2 separate regions of the Homo sapiens genome follow, and region 1 is linked to region 2. Evidence: fine-mapped expression QTL. A gene starts in region 2. The other region holds a variant in brackets. All regions are shown on one strand. Distances are from middle to middle. Region 1 has its middle 400 kb from the start of HTR1E. Region 2 holds the start of SNHG5 (small nucleolar RNA host gene 5).

Evidence for each region.
Region 1: its variant is fine-mapped to the expression of SNHG5 in whole blood (INTERVAL, PIP above 0.99).

The regions. Positions count from the first base shown.
Region 1 is chr6:86,532,410-86,540,753 of GRCh38, reverse strand. No RefSeq gene overlaps it. Among named protein-coding and RNA genes, the nearest start is that of HTR1E, 400 kb to the left of the region's middle. The variant G/A (reference allele first, on the strand shown) is at 3,519.
Region 2 is chr6:85,674,782-85,683,125 of GRCh38, reverse strand. It overlaps SNHG5 (small nucleolar RNA host gene 5), which reads left to right and starts at 4,393. Exons shown (of 6, transcript NR_003038.2): 1 at 4,393-4,432; 2 at 4,938-4,990; 3 at 5,094-5,172; 4 at 5,251-5,331; 5 at 5,634-5,702; 6 at 5,935-6,119. It overlaps SNORD50A (small nucleolar RNA, C/D box 50A), which reads left to right and starts at 5,758; the gene lies at 5,758-5,832. SNORD50B (small nucleolar RNA, C/D box 50B) reads left to right here and starts at 5,467; the gene lies at 5,467-5,537. RefSeq lists enhancers at 4,423-4,582, 4,753-4,812.

The DNA.
Region 1 (8,344 bases), 860 kb before region 2:
TGCATCTCTGGTCCTGATTCTTAGCCTTCTTTCTCCCTGATTCTTCTCCCACTCTGAATGTGTGGATTCCCTGGGGCTTACTCCTAAGCCCTTCCATTTTCTGTTTCCACTCTCTCCATTACTGATTCCACCCATTCATATAGCTTTATGTGCTGTCTCTATAGGGAAGTTCCAAATTTATATGTTTACCTTGGATTTCTCCTTTGACTTCTAGACTCATTTATCCAACTGTCTACTTGATATCTTCACTTGAAATTTCACAAGAATCGCAAATGTAAAGTCTCTGATATAGTTTAGATATTTGTCCCTGCCCAAATCTCATATTGAAATGTAATCCTCAGTGTGGAAAGTGGGGTCTGGTAGGAGGCAACTGGATCATGGTTGTGGATTTCTCATGAATGGCATTCTCTTGGTGCTGGCCTCATAATAGTGGGTGAATTCTAGCAAAATCTGGTTGTTTAAAAGTGTGTGGCACCTCTCCTCCTCTCCCCCTCCCCCTGCTTTCTCTGCTTTTGACATGTGATGTGCCTGCTCCCTCTTCATTTTCCATCATGACTGTACATTTCCTGAGGCCTCCCCAGAAGCTGAGCAGATGCCAGCACCATGCTTCCTATAAAGCCTGTAGAACTATTAGCCAATTAAATTTCTTTTCTTTTCTTTCTTTCTTTCTTTCGTTCTTCTTTCCTTTTTTTTTTTTTTAACAGGGTCTTATTTTGTCACCCAGGCTGGAATGCAGTGGTGCCATCATAACTCACTGCAGCCTAGACCTACCTTGCTCAGGTGATTCTCCCATCTCAGCCTCCTGAGTAGCTGAGACTACAGGCTTGAGTCACCATGCCTGGCATTTTTTTTTTTTTCCATTTTTTGTAGAGGTGGGGTTTGGCCATTTGCCCAGGCTGGTCCTCAAGCTCTTGGGCTCAAGCAATCTACCAGCCTTGACCTCCTAAAGTGCTGGGACTACAAGCATGAGCCACTGAGCCCAGACAAATCTCTTTTCTTTATAAATTACCCAGTCTCAGGTATTTCTTTGTAGCAATGCAAGAATGACCTAACAGAGTGTGTAAAGAGGATTTTATTGATTTTATGCCTGAAAGTCATTCCTCCTCTGGTCTTTGGTGTCTCAATAAATAGCCCCACAATCTATCCAGATTCTCAAAGTTGCAACCCGGGGGTCAAATGTAATTTGTATGTGCCCTCATATTTGATCTATCAGCAAATCTTGCTGCTCCTACCCCAAAATTTATCTCACATCTCTCTACTTCTTGTCTCCTCCATGGTCCAGTTCTAGTCCAAGCCACAGTTATCTCTTCCCTTCATGAGAACAGCTTTGTTATTGAACTCTTGGCTCCAACCTTGAGTCTTTTTCCTCTATTCTCATGAAAGCCAAACTCTTCTTTTGAAAGCACAAATATGATTAAATAACTTTTCTATCACCTTAACATTCTTCAATAACTTCCCATTGCACTTTAAAATAAAATCTAAACTCTTCCCCATGTGCCCCACTTGACATACACTAATCCTGCCTATCAGGCTTTTCTCATCTGAGACACCTTCTCTCCCTCGCTCATTATGCTCCAGTCGCAGGATTTTTCAAAAAAATTATTATCCAATTTTTCAAGCTCATTCCTACCTCAGGGCCTTGAGGTTGCCCTCCTTACCATTTAATAGAATTCATAATTTTCTACTTTTTAGATAATGTAATATCTATATTTCCTGCAAGACTGAAAGTTCCAATAAGGCAAGAATGATATGTTTTGTTTCCTACTCTGCAGTTCTGCATTTAGCACATAAGCAGCACTCTGCAAATATCTGTTAAACATATGGACATATTAATGCATTGTCAGTCACTATTCCCTTGGAGTAAACTAGGTTTGTTCTCACTGGCTTCAGAAACACTACATGAGTGAAGCAGAGCAGCTAAAAATGTGGAAATCATCAAAGAATGTAAAAATGGACTCTGTGTCTGCAGGAGGTAGAGGATGAACAGAGGTGATGGGATTCAGCCATGGGAAAGGAGAAAGACTACTGCACTTGGACTCAGAAGACTGAAGGTCTGGACCAGATGCAGGAAGTTGAATAATTCACTTAGGCTCTGTGTTAGACTGAATAAGTCCCTCCAAAGATGCCCACATCCTAATCCCTGGAACCTATCAATATGTTACCTTACATTACAAATGAGGCTTTGCAGAAGTGATTGAATTAAGGATCCTGAGATAATCCTGGATTACCCAAATGGACCCAGTGTAATCACCAGGGCCCTTGTTAGGCAGGAGAGTCATACTTAAGATGAAGATGTGAGGACAGAGCAGAGCAATGTGGGGCCACAAGCTAAGGAATGCATGTAGCACCTAGAAGCTGGAAAAGGAAAGGAAATGAATTTTCTCCTTGAGCCTCCAGGAGACACTCAGCCCTGCCAACCCATTTTAGATTTCTGACCTCTACAACTGTAAGACAATAAATTTGTATTGCTTTTAAACCACTAAATTTGTGATAATTTATTACAGCAGCAATAAGAAACTAACATAAGCTCTGAGACTCATCTCTAAAATCTGTCTTATTTACCTATTTGTTTGTTTGCCTTTGTTGCTACTATTGTCTCTGCAAACTAAAATTAAAGTTATGTAATGGAAGAGGCTATATCTCTGTTGTCCACTGTTTTATTTCCAGGATCAAGAACAAAGCCTGACACAGAGTAGGCTTTAAATAAATATTTGTTGAGTCAGTGAGTAGATGAACACAGATTTCTATCCAGTGGGGTAATTGTGCAGACCAAACATGCAAATATAAATTATAGACTATTTCAACAACTGAGCAGAAGTCATTCCTCCTATTCTCCCTGTGATTTCCTCTTCTTTTTAAACACATTCATTCCATCTGTTGCCTTCCCATGGGGTCTCCTTTACTCCTCTCCCAAGTTCTTCCTCCATCATTTGATGTCCTTTTACCTAATTCTTCCCTTAGGCTCTCTACCCTTAATTATATTATGTAATATCTAACTGTCTTGCTTGGGGATCCAGATGTGACTGGATTACATAAATACAGAGATAGCCACTTCTGATTTACATGTATGGCATACATGCATCCCTATGACTTTGATTAAATTTCATGTTTCATTTTAATGGATTTGAATAAATCACTTTAACGAATGTTGTATTCATTTACCTTAATTTGATTAGACCATTGCATATGAGAGAAATCTGTTCTGAAATTGCTCATGTTAATCACAAAATTGCATCCTAATGTAGTGACTAAAAGCACGTTTTCTTTTCAAAAGACAATTATGTCACATGCCATTTTAATCAAATTAGGCAGAGCAATTCCTCTGTAGCAAGATAGTGCTGAAAAGCAAGTTTGTGACCCAGCTTTCCTTCTTTTGCAGCCTGCTGGATGACTCACACTGTCATATGCTCTGGTTTACCAGGCACTGTCTATGAGTCTTTCTGGGTTATAGATTCCAATCAATATCATGCAAAAAAAAATTATGTGTGTGTAAAAGAGGGGGAGAGAGGGTAAGTGAG[G/A]AAACATACTGAGAATCTGACAGCAATACAGAGGGCTCTAACTTTTAAACCTGTGGTTTGTGATTTCAAATATTCAACATGTGTTAAGTGAAGTCATGCAATCTTCCTGAGGAAAATTGTTGACTGAGAGAGGTGGATGGTGTACCTCTGCAATGCTTGTCATCATGGTTTTCTTGAAATGCAGATGTAGGGGAGATGTTGGTGAGGGAGGTCGGGAGGACAGAAGGTTGATTGTGGTAAAGTCTTCATTAGGCAAGGACTCCAGAAGCCTCCTCCATGTCAAAATATCTCCTACTCACATTCAAACAGACATTCACTTGGGTGAACAGGCTCCTACTCCAATTTTTTGCTATCTAAATTTGTGAATATTTTCCTTTCTTGAAGATAGCAGCCTCACTGATGTGTTTGTACAAACAGGCTTACTTAGCCTTCTCACATATATGTATGTATATGTGTGCATATATATACAGTATACATGAACAGTATATTATATATGTGCATAGATATACACATATATAACTATATGAATACACACACATACACACATATACCAAAGAGGTCCTATTCTCTATTGAACAGAGAAAAATTACAAAAGTCAGGAGGGGTGTTCTTAGATAAATGCTTCTTGAGTGATTAATTCTAATATTCATTTGTAACTTTATTAACTTCAATTATATAATAAAAGCATCATTTATGTAAATCAATACACAAGGAATTATTTCAAAGTTTTCTGTATTTATCATTGACTTTGCATGCATGTGTTTCCTTGTTCAGCAAACCTTCATTGAGCCTCTATTGTATGCCAAGCTCTATGCTGATTTCTGAAATTGTAGATATGAAAAAGAAATCTTCTTGCCCTTATAGACTTCATAGAACAATGGAAGAAGGAATATAAAACAGGCATATTGCACAATATTGTGGTAAGAGTTGTAACTGAAAAAAGGGACATAAAATAGTAAAAGCCTGAAAATTATCTAAACTTTCACTATTTCATTTTACTCATCTGATCTAGAAAAACATATAATAAGACATTGAAGTAACTTTTAATTCTTATATTCTGACACTTTAAATTATAATTGTCAAAGAATAATTTTTCCAGACATTTTAGTCAGCAGTATCAGACTTCCTAGAGATTTATTCACAAAATTTCTAGGTAGATCAATGATCTGTAGTTAATCTACAGAGTAACAGGATTAGATTGAACAGCACTTCCAGGTCTTTCCCACATAGTTTTGTCCTGGAGACTAGCCATGAAATCAAGGAATTTCAGAGTGTATATGTGGCGAGGGAGGCAGTGGGTAGTAGGGAGTCTGTGGATACTATTATCGTCCCCATTTTACAGATGCATGCCAACAATAAAGTCAAGAGAAGTTTAATAACTTTTCAAGAATACACAACTAATGTATGGTTAGGCTGAGAAGTGAGTGTAAGCAATTCAGATCCAGACACTGCTGCGGTAGATATCTCTCACACTCTTTGAAGTAGAGGAGACTAGAATTAAAAAGCTCAGTAGTTGTATCTTGCTGCAAATTTAACGTGAGTTAACAAGTGGCCAACAAAACAGTTTAAATAATAGCTTTGCTAGTAAGAATATATCTATTTATATTAATAATTACTGCAAACCAATTACTCCAAAACTTAATAAACACACTATCAACACACATTTATTATTTCTCAGTTTTGTGGTTCAGGATTCTGGGTGCAGCTTTCTGGATCCTCTGGCTCAGGGTATCTGACAGGCTGTGATCAAAGTGTCAGCTAGGGCAACAGAAGGCTCAAAGCTTGACTGGGGTGGGTTCACCTCTCAGCTCACTTGCATGTTCACTGGCAGGATTCTGTTCCTCTAGTGCTCTTGGACTAAGGACCTTAGTCCTGATTAACTGTTAACCTGAGACGTCAGTTCTTTGCCACATGGTGCTTTTTATAGAGCTACTCATAACAGACAGCTGGTATCCCTCAGAGCAAGGGCTCTGAAAGAGGGCAAAAAATAATGAGAGAGATTGAGCAAGACAGAAGCCAGAGTGTTTTATTTTAATGTAATCTATCCTCAGAAGTGATATCTAATCATATTTACCATATTCTATTTGTTATGAGAGTCACTAGGCCCAAGCAACACACAAGGGGAGGTGATTGCACAACGTCATGAATACCCACAGGAACAGATCATGGGGGCTCATTTTAGAGGCACCTACCACACTGTTACCAATACCAGGAGAAATTTACCTAACGTCATGACTTCGGGACAGCTGAAGTAATCAATATGCCAAATATATAAAATATATTTATATAAGATATACAGAAATAAAGATAGTTGTAGATCTACATATACACAGTCAGATACATATACATAGAAATATAAGAAGCTACAAAAAATAAATTAGTTATCTAGATCGAGGATCTTCACCATTTCAATTTCCACACAAACACTGTCATGTCAAGAAAGTTTTATATTTTTCTAGCAAAAACTCATTCAGATAGAGAAACGCTTTCATAAATGTTTCACAAGCCCTCGTCTCAATTCAATCCTTTTCTCATGGTCATGAAAGCCTGTAAGCAAATGGATATGAAAAGTTGTTTATTTTGTCCCATGGACAGTTTCCTGCTATTCTAAAAAAGCTTTGACCAGTTCTCCTTTATACCCCATCACATTAATCAAAAATCCTAGATTACCTATATCTTCTCTGTGCTGGTGACCTGCTCCCTGCTTGGAGTCAGTGCCAAATTTTACTTTTCTGCCTCAACATCGTGAAAATGACTTCAGTCTGGTAACCTACACTTGACTTCACTCCTTGGAGTACTGTTTAACATTTTGAACCTGAATAACAACCTCCACCCATTGGAAGGTTGTTCTTATATTTTTTAGTTTTAAATCGGGGGTAAGGGTTCAAGTTCTTGTCATTGATATTCAGAAAGTATCTATGTGGACAAAATTACCACACATTTCATCATGATAGCTGATGAAGCCTGCTTTTGCTATACTATATAAATCTAAGTCACGCTATAGCCCTCCTATTAGCTTTTAAAAATATGTGTGTAGTTGAATTTATCTTCATGTACAGAGAGCCCTTCATTGATTTAGAAATTAAGCTATGTAATTACCTAATGGGTAATTTTTGGTACTAACATATTTCTGCAGAGATCCTCTATCATTTGTTGACATGAGAAGCTAAATTTTTCCTCCTGAGTTATATTTGCCTCAGATGTTTGAAATAAAATCAACTGAGTCCTGATTATAAACATATAATCATAGGATCATACAGAGGGTCACAGGATTATGGCATTTTAGACACACTTTTTAATTAGGCTAGGTTTCCTAAAGAGAAAAACACAAAAGTTTAAATAATCAATTTATTTATTCAAGCAATATTTATTGAGTGCCTGCTATGTTTCATGTACTATGTTAAGCACTGAGAATACAGTGTGAAAAGACAGAAAAGACTGATCTTTTGGAATTTAATGATAAAAAATCTCACAGAAATTGTATTTTTAAAATCAATTATCTCTTAGGAATTTGGTGGCTATTTCAAAATATTCCAAAAATAAGGAATCCAATTGTAACCAGAGAGCATGTGGCTTGTTGCCCATGCCTCCACTCAGTAGAAGAACTAAGATTCATTTATCATTTTAGTGCCAATAGTTGACCATATGGGTGGGTTTTGGAGAGACCATAATAAACCCACATCAGGTTCCCTTCCCCATGAGGTTTATAAAAACTTTTTGTTGCTCTCCTGTTGATAGCATAGGCATAATACATATTTGACAACATTCATTGTCCAAACAGAAAAATATGCTATAATAAATTAATATGTATTTTTAAATTTATTCAATCAATTATATATATACATATATTATATATATACATATATATAGAGAGAGAGAGCTAGATGGAATTAATATTGTTTTGATCAGGTAGGAATTGAAAAAACTATTCTAAAAACGTCATAAGGCACTCTGGCTAAGGTATCTATAGAATTATAGCCAGAATTTATTAAGGTGAACGATATATAAATGAGATCTTTGTACACTCTTACTGATGTCAGAAAAAATGTGCATGTGAGATAGATATTGTTAGCCCCATTTTGTAAGCCATTTGTTAAACACAGTCATTACTAAAAATTAAGTTGCACAAACTTAAAATTAAAAACAATCAATACTCAATAGAACTTACTACATTTTAATCAGTTCACTAAATTTTGCCATTACCTGTGATCTTGAGGTTATCTATGTTTATTGTGTCTTTATGGTAAAAATACAATATAGTGGTGTGCTACGCAGCATACCTCTTCCCACTTCTGTGTTTAATGATGTCAAACATGGTAGGAACATTTATACCACCAAAATAAGCTAATGATAGAAATCAAAGCCTTTTATTTTTCTGAGCTAGTTCTTAAATATATGCCAGCACACCACTGGATACTCTCTTAGAGAAAGCATTCCTTGCTCTGAGCCAGCAGTTGATTTAAGGTGCTATTGTTTTTTCTATAGACTGAATATAAGGCATCCAGAAACCTTAGAAGTGAGATGACAACCCTTATTATTATACCTAATGACCTGCTCAAAGTTTTCACGTCACTTCCCTACAACTGTGTCTTTACTTGATTAGATATTTTAGTATTCAAGGAGAAATGCTTTCATCAGGGGAAACATAGAAATGAAAGTTGGTACTGACACTAAGTCACTTTGAGATTTTTAATACCACTGGAAAAATGATCATAAAAACAAGAAATGAAAATTGGTTAGAGATGATGATCTTGATTATCAAGGGGATATCATTTTGTTGCTTGAGCATCAGGGAGAGATCATAGGACATAAACTCAAAACATTTT
Region 2 (8,344 bases):
GAAGCACAGTGCATGCACCAGGGGTTCAGTGAACATTTCTTCAAAAAAATGACTGAAGTGATTATCTTATCAGGAAGTTTGTTATAGAATATAAGAATTTATTTTCAGTATAATGAAGACTTCCAAGACACTTTTAATTTCAGTATTGATATTTATTAAGCCACTTCAAATATTTGGTAGTAATTCGCTTGACTGTTTTAGGTATGGGAGCAATAACTGATGGCTTCATCCCTCAGTTCATCTTTGTTTCCTGAAGAGATAAACATCTTAAAGGAGTTGTGTACTGACTTTATAGTCATTGACCACGTTCACAGGAAGGCACTGTTGTCAATTATCAGGCTCTGAGTTAATTTCATTTTTGCATTGCCCTTGTTACAGTTATTAGTTTTTGAATCAAAAGTAATTCGGGGCTCAGCAAGATGGCCCATGTCTGTAATCCCAACACTTTGGGAGGTCCAGGTGGAAGGATTGCTTGAGGCCAGGAGTTTGAGACCAGCCTGGTCAACAGAGCAAGACCCTGTTTCAACCAAAAAAAAAAAAAATTGGTCAGGTGTGGTAGTACACACCTGTAGTCCCAGCTACTTGGGAGGCTGAGGCAGAAGGATCACTTGAGCTAAGGAGTTCCAGGCTGCAGTGAGCTGTGATCACACTACTACACTCCAGCCTGAGTGAGCAAGACCCTGTCCGTATAAAAAAGAATAATAATAACATGGAAGGTTTTTTTTAAAAAAGGATTGGACTGTATATCACATATGTAGTACCTCTCTTACCCTAAGACTGTGGTTCTCAAACATCTATATGAATCACCCTACACGTGTGCTGTCCAATGCAGCGGCCAGCCACATGTGACAACTGAGCACTTGAAAAGTACAGACCACGCATGCACGTAAATGTTCATTGCAGCACTATCCACAATAGCAAAGATATGAAATCAACCTAAATGCCCATCAATGACAGATTGAATAAAGAAAATGTGGTACATATATACCATGGAATACTATACAGCCATAAAAAAGAATGAGATCATGTCTTTTGCAGGAACATGGATGGACCTGCAGCCATCATCCTTAGCAAACTAATCCAGGAATAGAAAACCAAATACTGCGTGTTCTCACTTATAAGTGGGAGCTAAATGATGGGAACTCATGAATACAAAAAAGGGAACTACAGACACTAGGGCCTCCTTGAGGGTGGAGGGTTGGAGGATGGAAGGGAGCAGAAAAAATAACTACTGGGTACTAGGCATAATACGTGGGTGACAAAATAATCTGTATAAAAAAATCCCTGTGATACGAGTTTACCTATATATAGCAAACCTGTGCATGTGTCCGCGAACCTAAAAGTTAAAAAGTAATAAATGTACAGACCAAATTGAGATGTAAGTAAAAAATACACACCTGATTTCATTTACTGCATACAAAAAACAAATGGAAAATATTTCAATGATTTTTACATTGTTTCTATGTCAAAATAAAAAACTTTGATTATATTTGGGTTAAATAAAATAGATTAGAACTAATTTCATTTTTCTTTCCTTTTTTCTTTTTTTTTTTTTTTTGAGACAGGGTCTGGCTCTGTTACCAAGGCTGGAAGGCAGAGGCACAATCTCAGTGCACAAGCTCACTGCAACCTCTGCCTCCTGGGCTCAAGCTATGTTCTCACCTCAGCCACCACACCCGGCTAATTTTTTATTTTTGATTTTTTTTTTTGTAGAGACAGAGTTTTGCCATGTTGCCCAGGCTGGTCCCAAATTCCTGAGCTCAAGCAATCCACCCGTTTTGGCTTCCCAAAGTGCTGGGCTTACAGGCATGAACCACCACGCCCGGCCCATCTGATCCTTTTTACATTTTAAAAATGTGTGGCCTGGCGTGGTGGTTCACGCCTGTAATCTCAACACTTTGGGAGGCCGAGGCGGGCGGACTACGAGGTCAGGATATCGAGACCATCCTGGTTAACATGGTGAAACCCCGACTCTACTAAAAATGCAAAAAAAAAAAATTAGCCGGGCGTGGTGGCGGGCGCCTGTAGTCCCAGTTACTCAGGAGGCTGAGGCAGGAGAATGGCGTGAACCCGGGAGGCAGAGCTTGCAGTGAACCGAAATCGAGCCACTGCACTCCAGCCTGGGTGACAGAGTGAGACTCTCAAAAAAAAAAAAAAAAAAAAAAATATATATATATATATATATGGCTACTAGTACATTTTTAATTACGTGTGTAGCTTGCATTTGTGGTTCATATTATATTCCAATTGGACAGTATTGCCTCTAATGCTTGTTTAAAATGTGGATTTTTGGGTCCCACTTTTGAACATTATGCTTTCAAGGTTCCAGGTTCGGGCCCAGAAATTTGATATTTTTTAACTTACCAGATTTTAACTGGTAAGTCAGGGTAAGGAATCACTGTTTTATATGGCTTTTGACCAGGTGATGTTTGTGGTCTTCAGAATGGCAGAAACTCTATCTCTACGAAAAATACAGAAAAATTACAGGGCGTGATGGCGCGTGCTTGTAGTCCCACATGGTTGGTGGGCTGAGGCAGAAGGATCACTTGATCCCGAGATTGCAGTGAACAGAGATAGAGCCACTGCACTCCAGCCTGGGTCACAAAGTGAGACCTTGTCTGGAAAAAAAAAGTCATCTATATGTACTGATATGGAAAGATGTTTATGATATTTACAAGACGGACAAACAAGTTGCAGAACATATAGATCCCATTTGTATGTGAAAAACGAAGTACATATATTTGCATTTGCATAGGAAGTCTCAAAAACTGTTAACAGTGGTATTGCTGAAGAGTACAACTAGGGAGAAGATTCCCAGGCATGTGGAAAGATACTTTCACTTTGCTTTTTTTGTTAACTCTTTTTAAAAATTTTTTTAATACAATAGAGACAGGGTCTTGGGCTCAATCCTCCCACCTCAGCCTCCAAAAGTGCTCTAATTACAGACATAAGCCACCACACCCGGCCTACTTTGCTTCTTATATCCTTTTGTACTGTATTGTTTGTTTTACTATTTACTATGAGCAATATGCAAATTTATGTAAGACATTACAAAGTAATACAAAAACCGACAAAATGCCCGGCCCAGTCAATACTTCATCATATAGGTTCCTGTTAGAGAAAAGTGCTTTTCACTACTATCTTTGAATGTGAAGTTTGATCTTCATTCTAATTTTCTAAAAAGCCACCGAATGTATTTGTTCATTCATTCATTCATTTAACCATTACCGACAACCTACTTAATGCTAGGCACTGTTCTAAGAAAAAATAAACAGCAGAGCACGAAATCAGATGTGTTGCTCCCACACTCTAGCAGAATCGGACCGTAATCAAATGCACACATAAACAACTTTAATAAGTAGTGCTTTGAAATATAGAAGTGAAGAACGACCTGAATTTTCAAATACTGAAATGTTCAAATGTCGTGTGCACACACACACACGCAGACATATTCACTCGAACATGCTAATTAATCAAAGCACTGCTTTTGAATTTTGTGTTTGTCGTCTGGATAAAGTATTCAGGGATACTTCTCAAATTAATCTTTCTCTCGTTTTCAATATAACTAATTGAGTACAAAGAAGTTAAAAATTAGCAAAGCATTTCAGCTGTGTGACCTTAGGCAAATTACCTGGCTGTTTTAAGCCTCAGTTTTCTCCTCTGCGAAATGGAGTATTGAACCTCACGTTCGCTGTTTGAGGGAGACTTGTATGGTCACGTTTAGTGTAACCGGATGCCTGGCACGAGGAAGCGTGAGGAGGAATGGATCCCCATGGGGCCTTGATGCCCGCCCTGAGGCCCTGCAGGGCCGCACGCCGGGGCTGTTCTCACGTGGCGCTTTCCGCTTTTTCACCCAAGCGTTTCTGCCAGCCAACTGCCCTTTCCCGGAGTGCTGCGGCCAGGGCTCGCCCGCTCCTCCGGCGGCCTCCGCTGGGGGCCCACTACAGCCCAGCGCCAGCCAGCCAGCCAGCCCAGCTTCTCGAATCGGTCCTAAGCTGAGGCCGCCCTGCGCTGCAAAACTTGTGTCCACTCTCGGACCCAATCTGTCCTGGACGGACTTGGCTCGTGGCAGGCGAAAGCGTCGTTTCCAACTGCAGCTGTTTGAATTCTGGCGCCACACCCGCGCCACGTAGGGCCAAGTCGGCCGCCAGACTCGTAAGAGACGCTTCGCAGTGCGCCTGCGGGCGCGCGCCGGGAAATGGCCGGGCGCGCGGCCGGCCTGCGGCGCGCTCCACAACGCGGAACGGGCCTCAGAAGAGCCACCGCGCGCGCTCCCGCTAATTCGCGACCACACCCCTGTCTACTTCCATGTCCAATAGGTGCGAGAGGGCGGGACGGCCTCGTTCTGACTCCGGGAGGCTATATAAGGAGCTACTGGCTGCGCACTTCGGTCTTTTACGTCGGCCTTCGCGAGCGTCTGGGCGGGTGGTAGGTGAGTGGGTATTGCGGGCTAGTATCCGAGCAAAAGATGGTGGCGCAGGCCGAGTTAAGAGCTTTAATCCTGTGAAGACATCTTAGTGAAGAGTTTAGAGTGCTGAGAGTTGAAAGCTTGCACGTGGGAAACGTGCGGCCGGACTGCCACATGTACTGAGGTTGAGTCGTGACGGCCACAGGCTCCGAGTTTTGGCGTGAGGAACCGCTGATCGGCCACGGGCGCCGAACTTGCTGGCCTCCGGCATGTGCCTGAGCGGCGGCGGAAAAACCACCTTAATTGGGGCGGAGGGTTAGTTTTAACAGCAAAGGGCCTTTACTAAAATGGCGAAGGCCTTCCGTCGGCGTTGTTTTAAAATGGGAAGCCTCGACCCTGTATTGAAACTGAGCTGTTCGAAGGCGGCGTTGTGTGCAATTCGGATTAATGAAGGGGAAGGGTTTTGTGTGGAAAAACGCCTTGGAGTGTGACATTTCTGCGAGAATGCTTAAATACCGATTTCCCGCAGGAACAATGGCGCTGTCTTCAGTGGCACAGTGGAGCAGCTCTGAAGATGCAAAGGTAAGAGCTTAGTTAAGCTTAGTTTCCAAACTAAAGGAGTAAACCTGTTGATTTACAGGAATAGGAACTGTTGCATCGTTTGAAATTTACTTTTTTTTGTTAGATACACGAAAAAACTTCCAGAACATCTGGGAGAATATTTAATGGAAAATCGCTTGGTTAAAACCTGACACTTTTAACAGGTATGTGTTGTTTTAGTACTTTATGATTGAGCATAGCATTTAATCCACACCTAGACTAAATCAAATTTTTTTTGTCAGTGAACAGCGTTCTGAGTGTGGACGAGTAGCCAGTGAAGATAATGAATGTCGAATGTGACTGACTAGCAGCTTCATTTTGAAGTAGGTTGTATGGCTTAAAAGTTCTGTAGTATTTGTACTATAATACTTGCCTTTTAGCATTACCTTGGTTTGTAGTCAGTGTCACAGAAGTGCAGTTTAATGTATTATGTGTACATATACAAGGTCTGATTGGTCTAATCAATGATGAAACCTATCCCGAAGCTGATAACCTGAAGAAAAATAAGTACGGATTCGGCTTCTGAGATTAAGACCAGTAATTCAGAGGTGGAGTAAATTTTGTTGCCGTGATTTTATAACAGTTGTGTTATAAAATCCTGGGTTTTTTTTTTTTCTGCCAACAGTGAGGGTCGCTGTCTGCCCATTGATAGAGGCCAGATTGTCTTGGAAGTTCCAAAGTTGCAACGATTTCTGTAAGTGGAGTTTTTCTGTTTGCTTAGAGATCAGTGAATATTGTGTCCTTGGTCTTATCTGTGATGATCTTATCCCGAACCTGAACTTCTGTTGAAAAAAAAAAACTTTTACGGATCTGGCTTCTGAGATGGACCGTTATAAGGACAATATTTTTTTTTAATACTTTTAATGCTTTTACATATGTTGTAATGTTTGTAGTCTTGTAAGAATCTCGTGTTTTTCCTTTTCTAGGGCTAGTGCCACGAGGTTTACTTGACTGTTGTGTGAAAAGCTGATAAGAAAACCATCCAGAAAAAAGCTCTTCGTTTTACAAACATGAAAATAAAACATGTAATTTTGGATTATGTTCCTTTTTGTTATTACTTTTAAATAGGTCCTGAAATAACATGGGGAGCATTAAATGGAAAATCCACTAACCAGCCTTGTAATCAAATTACTGTGAGTGAATGTTTCGGGTTTGTGCAGGGTACAATGTAAGGGTTTTTGGATCAGTGTAAGAGTGGAGAGACAGGAATTAGAAGTAATTGTTACTAAGCAAATCATGGAATATTTAGTTTTGATGTAACTATAATTTTGAAAGCCTGGATGCTTAAGTTGAGAAATGGGGGAATGAGATACAGAAAATAAGGAGCACAATAGAATAATAATAGCAGTTTATTAAGTATGGTCATGAGGGAAGGTTACTGATAAAACAATCTGGTAAAGACATTCAGGCTTGCTAAAATCTAGGAAGAGGTCATTTGGCAGGATGGGTTACATAATGCTATCTGATACTACCAAATAAAATGAGAGAGAAGCCTTAGGCATGTAACGTTTGGAGATAGAAAATGTACCTTCACTATGAAGGTAGTGTGTGTAAGATGGCAGTTGAAAGCATTGCTTGTGTTTATGTTTATACCCTTGATCTCTGATGCCCTTACCTACCGTACTTAAAACTCTGTTAATCATTGTCTTTCTCCCCCTCCCACAACTTCTGCATAAAATTTTAAGATCTGTGTTTCATTAGTTCAAGAGTGCCTAGAATAGGGCCAGGCACTGTTATACAGTATGTGGTAAAAGACTATTGAGATTCCAGTTTTCAAGGAAGAGTGCCATTACCGTTTTGTTAAAGCTGGCAAACAAGACAAAGTTGTGAAATAGACTGGTTGCTTTGGAGCCCTCTGACCGCTTTTCCTGTAGCTCCTTCTACCTCCCTTGCCTCCCAATAGATTTTTTAATATGTCACATTATCTATCGAAATTAGTACTCCACATTTATATGCACTGGCTTGTGCTAGGCTCTGCCAAGACTCCTGAAATAAAACCGTTTTGTCAACAGTGGCACAAGATGCCAAGGAAAAGTCAAGCTATGAAGGATTCTTGAAAATAGAACAAGTGGATTTGAGTCTAAACCAGCACAGATGTTGGGACAATAGGCCTAAGAAATAACTGAGCAAAGACAGTATGGTTCAGAGTCTGAGACAAATATTGAGGATTTGGGTACCAACAGGGTGGATAGGTGTAGGACAGAAAACTGATGTTATAAATACCCTTAAGATTCTTGAGCAAGGAAGTTACAAATGTAAGACTATTCCTGTAATGAGAGTCAGATCCAAAAAGGTTTAATTTGAATGGAATTGAACTTGAAAGTTCAGTTTCAATTACTGACTCCTTGATGGCAATTTCTAATCACACAGGAGGCTGTTAGTCTGTCATAGCCTCCTAAAATCTCAGGCGATATTGGTTAAGATCAGTTTCCTAAGTTTACCCTCCAGAGCATAGCTGCTGCTTGGGACCAGGTGCAGTGACTCATGCCTGTAATCCCAGCACTCTGCTTGAGCCCAGGAAGAGACCAGCCTGGAAACAGCAAGTTGTCATCTCTATAAATAAGTAAAACTGGGTGTGGTAACATGCGCTTGTTCCAGCTACTCGGGAGGCTGAGATAGGAGGATCACTTGAACCTAGGAGGTTGAAGCTACAATCAGCCATGATTGCACCTCTGTCTTCTATCCTGGGCAACAGACCAGGCTAAAAAAAAAAAAAATCCTTAAGGAGCTTGACTATAATAGACTGGGATATGCTTGATTCTGATTGGTTTCAGAAGTTGAAAGATAATTTACGTGTCTGACTTTAGTGACTTCAGCCAACAGGAATTTTTCCTCTGCCTTACACCAGGCTTCCAGGTAATCTTAAAATACAGTAAGCTCAAACCTACCATTTGGTGCTTTCTAAAATTAGTTCTATTGCCAGAAACCCAATATCCACTGTGCTTGGCTCCCCAGTCAAGTGTCCTGTGAACTAACATCAATCCTCACTGCCCTGTGTATATGAAAGAGCTTTCAGCTGTTTTCATGGTTTTTCTAACAGTTCCCCAGTTGGGATTAGAGCCTTTGTTTGAATCAGCCTACTAGAATAACCTGCTTATCTTTTGCCAGTCCTTTAATAGGAGTGGGACCCTCCTTCCTGCCTTTTCAAAAGCTTGGTTCTGGATCCAAACAATACTTATAGTACTTAGTTATAGGTATATATTAGTATACATGACTTAACTGTCTGAATATTGCCACTGCCTCTGATCTTACTCCATCCTGTAGAGTAACATCTTGTAGAGAGCATCTTGGGGCAGAAGAGGATACATTTTCAGTATGAGAACCAGACTCCTTGTC